3 linked regions of the Homo sapiens genome follow. The protein of the gene in region 2 purifies or fractionates together with the protein of the main gene of each other region. This does not show direct contact. Each region holds a gene or a part of one and is shown on either strand. Other genes may lie near its edges.

What was found.
Region 1: the proteins of CPSF4L (region 2) and CCNG1 purify together in Homo sapiens (affinity purification with mass spectrometry; 3 studies listed by BioGRID and IntAct, with this or other methods). This does not show direct contact.
Region 3: the proteins of CPSF4L (region 2) and WDR33 purify together in Homo sapiens (affinity purification with mass spectrometry; 3 studies listed by BioGRID and IntAct, with this or other methods). This does not show direct contact.

What each region holds. Positions count from the first base shown.
Region 1 is NC_000005.10:163,435,524-163,439,274, forward strand, and holds the start of CCNG1 (cyclin-G1), read left to right. Parts: upstream 1-2,071; 5' UTR 2,072-2,281; intron 2,282-3,733; coding exon 3,734-3,751. UniProt on the Homo sapiens protein: May play a role in growth regulation. Is associated with G2/M phase arrest in response to DNA damage. May be an intermediate by which p53 mediates its role as an inhibitor of cellular proliferation.
Region 2 is NC_000017.11:73,255,234-73,258,984, forward strand, and holds part of CPSF4L (putative cleavage and polyadenylation specificity factor subunit 4-like protein), read right to left. Parts: intron 2,601-3,751; coding exon 2,448-2,600; intron 1-2,447.
Region 3 is NC_000002.12:127,700,471-127,703,266, forward strand, and holds the end of WDR33 (pre-mRNA 3' end processing protein WDR33), read right to left. Parts: 3' UTR 1,707-2,796; coding exon of another isoform or gene 1,059-1,706; 3' UTR 557-1,058; downstream 1-556. Other genes in the region: SFT2D3 (vesicle transport protein SFT2C), read left to right, coding at 1,059-1,706. UniProt on the Homo sapiens protein: Essential for both cleavage and polyadenylation of pre-mRNA 3' ends.

The sequences.
Region 1 (3,751 bases), on a different chromosome or scaffold from region 2:
TGACTACCTCTTTATGCACTTTCTATTATTTAATCCTCTTCATAACCCCATGAATAATGTATTTTTTACTTCTCATTGTTGAGAAAAGAAAATGTGATTAAATAACTTGCTGAAAGTCACATAACAAGTTATGAGCTATTCCTGGATATGAATATAAGTTTATTTTATTCTAAAGTCTATGTGTTTATATTGCCCACAGGTTACATGTTCTACAAGGACGGGTACCAGTCTAATTTGTTCTCCACTGGCCTATGCTATGTGTTCAATAAATATTAGTTAATTTATTCGTGCTTTTGATTGCTATAAAGAATTTTTTTTTTTTTAGACCAAGTCTTGCTCTGTTGCCCAGGCTGGAGTGCAGTGGCACCATCTCGGCTCACTGCAACCTCTACCTCCCAGGTTCAAGCGATTCTCCTGCCTCAGCCTCCCGAGTAGCTGGGATTACAGGCACGTGCCACCATGCCCAGCTAATTTTTGTATTTTCAGTAGAGACGGGGTTTCACCATGTTGGCCAGGTTGGTCTCAAACTCCTGACCTCAGGTAATCCACCCGCCTCTGCCTCCCAAAGTGCTGGGATTATAGGTGTGGGCCACCGCGCCCAGCCTGCCATAAAGATTTTATGATTTTTTAGCCATTTTTTTTAAAAATTGTGCATATACATTCCTAATTTTAGGAATTAGGAATAATAGGAACTAAAAGCCAAAAGGAGAAACTACATTTATAAACTCACACATTACAGCAAAAAGTATTTTTAAATAAAATCACTTGTTAAAGGTTATAAATTGCCAATTTATATTCACTAGGTAAGCTTTTATTTTCAAAAGGAACAAAGGCCTCTTCCCCATTTGAGCCCCAGTTTCTTAAACTGACCTGATTATGTGGCTAAGGTATTATTGTGAGGTATTGATGTTTTCTCCTGTTTTTCCTTCCCCTTCCTCCCCACCCCTTTTCCCCCTTTCCAGAGTTTTGTTCTGTGGCATTGCCTTGGGTAAGTACACGGCAGGGCAAATAGCAGAGTGACGGCAAATCTTTCAGATTTTCACTTTTTCAAAGTAAGAGAGACCGAACTGGGGCCATGAGAACAGAGACATCCAACTACTGTGTAATTCATAAGAGTTTAGAAATGACTCCTTGTGCACCCTTTTTCAGGCCCTTTTACAAATGGACTTTTCTCACTTGTGATGATCTGGGAGAGTGAGAGTGAGGAGAGTCTAAGAAGAGTTCAGGCTAATTATTTTCCCACTAATCTGGCATAGGAGAGGCTCACAGAGATTAAATTCATTATGGTAAATACAAAGAGTAATACTGCTTTACACTCGGGTCTGTAGACTGAGATTCACACTCACCACAATTATTCCTGTTAACAGTCTGCCACATACCTTTCATTTTAAGCAACTGAAAAATTGTACCAACTTTTCTCTTTAAATTTGCTTTAAAAGCAAATTCAGAAAATTGGTAGAGGGTCAAGAAATTACACAGTCCAACTCCATTATTTGATAAATTGTATAAAAAGCAAACTAAGGCAAGAATCAACTGACTTCCAAAGTTCACGAAGAGAGCACTCTGGAAGTTGATAAACCACCAAACCATATAAATTCCACCACCTCTTTATCTGTAATTAAAAATCAAAGGTTGACTTTTTTTTTTTTAACTACTCACTGTATTTTTAGAAAGATGGGGCAGAACCACTGTAGAACTCCTAAACCCCACAGAACAAACAGTACATTCTGGAATGATACGCCGGCCAATCCGGCTGGCAGCCGATTGACCTGACCCAGGCGAGGGTTGCTGCACCGAGTATTTAGTTTGGCCCCCTACTGAATGAAGACACTTTGTTAAATTCTCCAATGAGAGACGCTTAGAGGTAGGGGCGTGGAAGGGGGCCGGGGAATTTGAGGCCAGATAACGGGAAGTGTGAGCCGATTGGCCGGACTTCTCACTCCACGGCCCAGCCGTTTACGGATCGCGGAGGCCATCCATCAAAAGAATTACACCAATCAGCGGCGAAAATGCCCCCTTCTCGCGAGAAAGCCCCGCCCTCCAATATATTCCTCGTTAGGGCAGGCGCGGCCCCTTCGGCTCCGAGCTGACCCTGATCAGGGCCGAGTTGTCTCGGCGGCGCTGCCGAGGCCTCCACCCAGGACAGTCCCCCTCCCCGGGCCTCTCTCCTCTTGCCTACGAGTCCCCTCTCCTCGTAGGCCTCTCGGATCTGATATCGTGGGGTGAGGTGAGCAGGCCCGGGGAGGGTGGTTACCGCTGAGGAGCTGCAGTCTCTGTCAAGGTGAGTGGGACTGCGCGGGAGTTGACCGCCAGGTGCGGGTGGGGAGCTGGGTTGGGGGCGCGGGGCGAGGAGTAGGTCTGGCCCGCGCCCTTTTCCACACTAAACTCTACCGCTGTTGTGAGCACAAGCCCAGGCTAGTCCGAGGCTGGAGGGGCGGAGCCGGATCCGGCCTCCTGAGGTGCCTTTCGTGTCTGCCGACCCAGTCCCAGGGACTAGCCTGGGGAGGAAGAATGGAACCCCTGCAGTTAGAGGTTCCTCACATGACTAGCTCTGAAGACCTCCTGCCTTCCTGTCTTTAGTTGGTGTGGGAGGGACCTTCCATGTATCCAGGGCTTAGCTTGTGCCCGGGACATGGTTGTGTTATGCACACTTAAATCAATGGAATTCCCAGGTTCATCTTTCAGACTAGGTTAGCAACAACCCACCGCACCCCCCCGCCCCAATACGTGCTCCTAATGTCACCTTTTAAGTTTCCTTTCCTAACAACAATAAAAGTTAAGTAATATTGAGTATTGTGTGCCAAGCACTGTGCTATACTCTTTAAGTGGTGAATCATCTTGTTCAGTCTTCACATTCAGCGACAGATATTGTTACCCTCATTTTATAAATCTAGAAAGAAGCTCAAGCTCATTATTATTGTTCAGTGTTTTTTAAGCGTCTACTGTATGTGCTAAGCTCTTTACGTGATTTCATTTTAACTCACAAATCTGTGAGGTAGGTCATAAACCTTATCCCTACTTTATCAATGTGGAACTAAGTACAATTAAGTAACTTGAACAGTTCATTTTGTTAATATGTGGCAGAATACTTAACTACCATCTGCTTTTCACTTTCGGTATCCTGTCTTACGGTGTTTATTCGTGGTTATCTATTGACAGTGAATAACTTGAACAAGTATTTCTTGAAGATTTGCATTTTATTTTTCTAAAAAGCATGGTTCCGACCGGGCGCGGTGGCTCACGCCTGTAATCCCGGCACTTTGGAAGGCCGAGGCGGGCAGATCACAAGGCCAGGAGACCGAGACCATCCTGGCCAACATGGTGAAACCCCGTCTCTACTAAAAATATAAAAATTAGCTGGGCGCGGTGGCGCATGCCTGTAATCCCAGCTCCTCGGGAGGCTGAGGCAGGAGAATCGCTTGAACCAGGGAGTCGGAGGTTGCAGTGAGCCAAGATCGTGCCACTGTACTCCAGCCTGGCAACAGAGCGAGACTCCTTCTCAAAAAAAAAAAAAAAAAGCATGGTTCCTTCCCTCTAGGAACTCAATTTAGGATGTGACCAACTTGTAGAAGGGAAATAAATAACAGATGGCACTTTGCAATGACTTAGATGCACTAGCCGCATTGGGGGATGGGAGGCTTATAAATCATTTCTTGGCCCAGTGCAAAGATGGCCAAGGAAAGCAGGAAGGACTACTCTTACACTCCTTGCTGGTCTTTTTTTCTATATATAGATGATAGAGGTACTGACA
Region 2 (3,751 bases):
TCATGCCTGTAATCCCAGCACTTTGTGAAGCCGAGGTGGTGATCCTTAGGATCACCTGAGGTCAGGAGTTTGAGACCAGACTGGCCAACATGGTGAAACCCCATCTCTACTAAAAATACAAAAATTAGCCAGGTATGGTGGCACGTGCCTGTAGTCCCAGTTATTCAGGAGGCTGTGGTGGGAGAATCGCTTGAACCTGGGAGGCAGAGGTTGCAGTGAGTCGAGATTGTGCCATTCCATTCCAGCCTGGGCAACAGTGCGAGACTCTGTCTCCAAAAAAAGAAAAAAAAAAAAAAAAAAGGAGAGTACCCCTGATTCCTAAGAGTTTAAAACCACCATTCTTTCCCAGCCCTCTCATTTCACAGAGAACGCCAGGGCTCAGAGAGGGGAAAAGGCCACATCCATTTCATTCAGCTTCCTCACGTTCATGAAGGGTTCATTTGTTCATTGTCAGTATACAGCACTGGGCAGAGTGCTGACTCTGGGCTTGAGCTTTCTAATGAATCAAAGTGACATCACCCCCTAGGTGATGCTGGCCAGCATTTGATGGATGGAGATAACAGAAAGTCATCTACACTGGTTGCCGTTCTGCTGCGTGCACGTCTCTGCATTCCTGGCCTGGCCAGCAGGTGGCAGCAGCACCTCAGCCTTCAATCCGCCTTTCAGAGACGGGGGTACTGGGCTGAAGACCCCGGACACCAGTCCCTTCCAGTGACTCTGTCCCACTCCTACACCTCCCCAACAACACTCTGATTCCAATTAGAGTGATCATCACTTTGATATTCGAAAGCCATATGCATTCATTTACTGTAAGAACAGTAGATTACATCTTGTAATCATGGGCTTACAAGTCTGTCCTCTACTAATTGGAGTTATCTGGGGGCGGAGGGGGACCTGGTCCTGTTCCTGTATCCATGCCCAGGAGCACCTGATCCCCAAACAAACACCGAGGGCTATTGAGGGAATAACTAAGTAGGTGGCATTTTATTACTAAAGTCACAGAATGCTAGGCAGTGACCAAGGGGAACTTGGATAAACATTGTCCTTTCAGGGGAGACATGGGGGCAGCTCTCAGGAACTGCCATGCCTTTGCCTCCCAGGAGCAGGCAGGAAATGGAATATTAGCCTGGGTGGGGCTCTGACTGGCCTAGGCAATGCTTTGCCTCCTTCTCAGGTACCCAGGACCCTCCCATTGGCACTAATGAGGAGCAGCCGCTTGGGGGGCCCTGAAGCTGGCTGCAGCCACATTTGGAAGCCAAGCCTCCTGAGTCAGGGGCATCCAGGGGATTCTGCCAGCTCTCTCTTTGTAGGTCACTCTTTATGGAATACAGTTGGAAAACCACTGGACTAGATAATCCGTAAGGCTCCTTCCAGCTCCGAAAAGCTCTGAGCTGTAGAATCGTATTGTGAAGGGTGAGACCTGAAGCACATTTACAAATTCCTTTCTTAAGTAAGCGGGAAAGTGGCTGCAGCTGCCCCATAAACAGTCCCTTGATTAAAAGGACAAAGGAGGCCGGGCACCGCAGCTCACACCAATAATCCCAGCACTTAGGGAGGCCAAGGCAGGTGGATCACCTGAGGTCAGGAGTTCAAGACCAGCCTGGCCAACGTGGCAAAACCCCGTCTCTACTAAAAATATAAAAATTAGCCGGGCATGTTGGTGGGTACCTGTAATCCCAGCTACTCAGGAGGCTGAGGCAGGAGAATGGCTTGAACCCGGGAGGTGGAGATTGCAGTGAGTCAAGATCACGCCACTGCACTCCAGCCTGGGGGACAGAGCAAGACGCTGTCTCAAAAAAATATATAAAAATAAATAAAAGGACAAAGGATGCCTTGAAGCCAGAGGGAGGTAAGATGCTGGTCCAGGCTTGACCGCACAAGATGACTTTAGGTGCTAGACCTCTGAACCTCATGGATTTATGTTTACAATGACCTTTGATTTCCAACAAGTGATGCTAGTTCTCCGTTTATGGAAACAATGCAAAGTTTCTTCTAAAGTAAGAGTTAAAATAGCAAGACCGTTGGAAGAGCAGACAGTGGTGCTGGGGCTTTGAGGGTACAGCAGGCATCGTGAATGTGGCTCTGAAGGCCTGATATTCGAGAAGTTCTAGCCGGGGCCTGAGAGATGGCTCATTTGAGACATTTCAATATAGTCAGGCTGGGTGTGTGATGAACCAAGAATGGGGAGAGAAACAATCCCTTCTTCCCTTTTGGGGGTATCTGGTATGCACCTTGATCCAGGGGGCAGTAAAGGGCAGGGACTTCAGGGTGCACTTCTGCTTGTCTAGGGGTTTGGAGAACAGACACCTGAGACTCAGACAGGTCTCTCTGGCCTCCAGGGACATGTCCAGCCTCCTCTGCGTGCCCGCTCCTCTAGAAACCTTCCCATCTCACAGCCCACACTGCCACCCTCCAGGGTGAGGCACCGAGCCAGGAAGAGGCCTTACCAAACTTGGAGTAGAAGTAGCACTCAGGCATCCTGGTGAGGTCATACTGGTGCAGGAACTTGCAGTGATCACCCTTCTTGCAGAGCCCCCGGAGCCAGTGCTTGCATACCACCATCTTCTCCCCTCGGTCATGTCGGAAGGGGCAGAGTTTCCCTGGAGATGCCAGAGCACCTGGCTGGGAGGCCCCTCATCCACAGCCTGGGCCCAGCTCAGCCCTCCAGGGGATTCCCCAGGAGGGTACCTGACTCAGTCCCCAGCGGCTGTCCCCTTATCCCTTCACCTGGACCCTGTAGGGGCTGGAACTGGGAGCCGAGGCAGCATGAAGGGAGAGCTTTTTTTTTTTTTTTGAGACAGAATCTCGCTCTGTCGCCCAGGTTGGAGTGCAGCGGCGCGATCTTGGCTCACTGCAAGCTCCGCCTCCTGGGTTCACGCCATTCTCCTGCCTCCATTTCCTGAGTAGCTGGGACTACAGGCGCCAGCCACCACGCCCTGCTAATTTTTTGTATTTTTTAGTAGAGACAGGGTTTCACCGTGTTAGCCAGGATGGTCTCGATCTCCTGACCTTGTGATCTGCCCACCTCGGCCTCCCAAAGTGCTGGGATTACAGGCGTGAGCCACCGCGCCCAGCCAAGCTCTTGTTTTTGAGATGGCGTCTCGCTCTGTTGCCCATGCTAGAGAGCAATGGCACGGTCTCAGCTCACTGCAACCTCCACCTCCCAGGTTCAAGTGATCCTCCTGCCTCAGCCTCCCAAGTAGCTGGGATTACACCTGCAACTACACCCGGCTATTTTTTTTATTTTTAGTAGAGACGGGGTTTCACCATGTTGGCCAGGCTGGTCTCGAACTCCTGATCTCAGGTGATCCATCCGCCTCAGCCTCCCAAAGTGCTGGGATTACAGGCTTGAGCCACCGTGACTGGCCAGGGCAAGCTCTTCTTAAAGCACAGCTGTTCCCACTACCACACCTTTGCCCATCCTTCCCATCTGCCTGGAGTGCCATGCCCTTCTCCAGGGAAGTACCTGGGCTCAGAACAGCTGCCTCCTTTTCATTCCCAGAGTGCCTAACACCCCCTCTCGTCCTGCCAGGGAGCGGGGCCAGGCTTTCCAGCCCAGAATCCCCACACCCAGCCCAGCCCCTGGCACATAGTAAGTGCTCAGTAAGGGTGTGTTGAATTCCCATCTTTAAAAACATCAAATGTTATGCTTCCCGATTCCAGAGACCTAACAGGGTGACAGAAGAGCCAACTTTGTAATGATTTATAAGGAATATTCCATGGAAATGTTACATTTAACTGCTTTATCATC
Region 3 (2,796 bases), on a different chromosome or scaffold from region 2:
CTGAGAAGCCAAACAGCAGGAAGCCGTTAACCTTACATCCACCTAGGGCAGAGGACAAAGGACACAGGGCCACCCAGGGGAAGCCAAGGTGGTGAGGGGAGCTGTGGAGGCAGCTGGAAGAATCTGGAGGAATCTGACCTGTGAGAGGAACCACAAGCAAACACCCTCTAGGAGGCTCTGAGAAACAGCAGGGCACGTGGGTGCGGCCTGGGAACAGATCAGGATTGACCTGCGTGCGAGCCAGCTTGTCACAGTGATGTGACGATGAGTCAGGACACCTGGGCGTGGCGCTGTCCAGAGCACGAGAGTGACACCAAACACATGGGACAGCAGCACCGAGTCTTGGACAAGGGGCGCGAAGGAGTCAAGGATGTTGCCAGGCCTGTGGCCGAAACTGAGAACAGAATAGAGAAGCAGGTTGAGGGTGCTGGGTGTCAACCCTTCCTTTATCAACCCCATGGTAAATGATCAGGATGGTCACTATTACTACAAGTGAGGTAACTAATCAGAACGCAACTTTCCCCAAAAAACCCACCTGAGTTACACAGGTCTGAACTTTTTTAAAAATTAAATTTTTATTTTGAGATCACTGTTTGTGTTCAGTTGTAAGAAACAAGAGAGATTCTGTGTACCCTTTACCCATTCCTCCATGTTGCAAAACTAGCACAATATCACCGCCACGGTAGACGCAGTGAGGCCATAAGACATTTCCGTCAGCAAAAGGGTCACTTCTTGTGCCCCTTTAGAACCACACCCACCCCTGCCTTCCAACTATTAATGCTGGCAGGACTTAGCCAGACCGCAAGGGCGCCTACTCCGAACAAGGAAGAGGGTCAGGCGCTGGGAGGGCGACTGCAAGCGGACAGGCAGCACCTGCGACCACGGTACTTGGGGACACCACAAAAGTCCGCAGAGCAGGCACCGCGGCACTTCCGCGAGCGCCGCAGGCCCTGCCCCTTTCGCCGTCGCCGACCAATTGCCGCCCGAAGACCGAACCGCTTCAGCGGAGGGCCGGAAGTGAGCCGCAGCTTTTCCTTTCTGCCACCGCCTTGTCCAAGATGGCGGACCTCCACCGCCAGCTGCAGGAGTACCTGGCGCAGGGGAAAGCTGGCGGCCCGGCGGCCGCGGAGCCGCTGCTCGCCGCGGAGAAGGCGGAGGAGCCCGGGGACCGGCCGGCGGAGGAGTGGCTGGGCCGCGCGGGCTTGCGCTGGACGTGGGCGCGGAGCCCTGCGGAGTCGGCAGCGGCCGGCCTGACGTGCCTCCCGAGCGTGACGCGCGGGCAGCGGCTGGCGGCGGGCGGCGGGTGCCTGCTGCTGGCTGCACTGTGTTTCGGCCTAGCCGCGCTCTACGCACCGGTGTTGCTGCTGCGCGCGCGCAAGTTCGCGCTGCTCTGGTCACTGGGCTCGGCGCTGGCGTTGGCGGGAAGCGCGCTGCTGCGGGGCGGCGCGGCGTGCGGACGCCTGCTGCGCTGCGAAGAAGCGCCGTCCCGGCCCGCGCTGCTCTACATGGCAGCGCTGGGCGCCACGCTGTTCGCCGCGCTGGGCCTTCGCAGCACGCTGCTCACGGTGCTGGGCGCGGGCGCGCAGGTGGCCGCGCTGCTGGCCGCGCTGGTTGGGCTGCTGCCCTGGGGCGGCGGCACCGCGCTGCGCCTCGCACTGGGTCGCCTGGGCCGCGGCGCCGGCCTCGCCAAGGTGCTGCCCGTGTGAGGACCTCGCGCCCTCGCCGCTGGGGAAGTACGCGGAGCCAGCGCCGTCGGAGACCGCGCCGGCCGAGCTGAGGACTGCACGCCGCTGTGCGGAAGCCCGTGGCGAAGGCCCTGCCCTAACAGCCTGCGAGTCTAATCCGGGAGCGGCTGCTGCCAGCGGAGGCGACAGCAGCGTTGGGAGCTCCTCGATGTCAGCTTTTTGTGCTGGACTTGGCACACGCTCTGAAAACTGAGATTTTGTCATTGAACTGGTGACAGGATGTGAGACGGTTATTAGAAGTTGCTTTCGAAGTAACTGTGGTCTTAGGTTCGGCTGAGTAAAGAAAAAGGATTTTTCTTCGAGTTAGCTGCTCTTGTGATTTTTCTCAGGCTGTTTTGTCATTTTAAAATCCAGTGGTAGATGTAGCTTAGCGACGGTAGTTTTTTGTTTTGGCTATACTAAGACTTGGAAATTATTCTCTCCAGTGTCAGCGAATCCAGAAGGGTATCAGATTAAACACCGAATTCAGCCACTGGACTTTTAAAAGTACTTAAGATGGTTTATCTCGGGTTTTTTCTTCAGTTAACAAAATCATAAATATGGTGCCTTATAACATGAAAGGAAAATTAGTTGTGTATTTCACGACGAAAGCGACGGACCAAAAGAAATTTCCTGCCCCAAGAAGCATGGGATCCAGGAAGGGGCGCGTAGATGCTTAACGGTCTCTTCGGAAATCCTGCAAATAGAAAGATAATTCTAGATCCGGAATACCTGTATCTGGTGGAAACCATGGATTTCTACAAGCTCGAATTATTCCTCATTGTATAGCCTGCTTTGTAAACTAGTTTACAATTTGCAGGCTGATCTTAAGATTTTTTTATATCTAATTGCTGCTGCCTTCATTTTAGGTTCAGCAGTTACTTTTAACTACCTTAATTTATTGCCAGAAGGTATGAGCCTAACATTCTGATGAGTCCAGAAAACTACGTTTTGTCAGTAGCAATACACTAGGAAGTAAAATATATTTAGAATTTAAACATTGTGTGCCAGTGGTCCTCGCGCTTGACTGCACATCAGTTACTTGAAGAGCCACACCTCAGATCAATGCAGT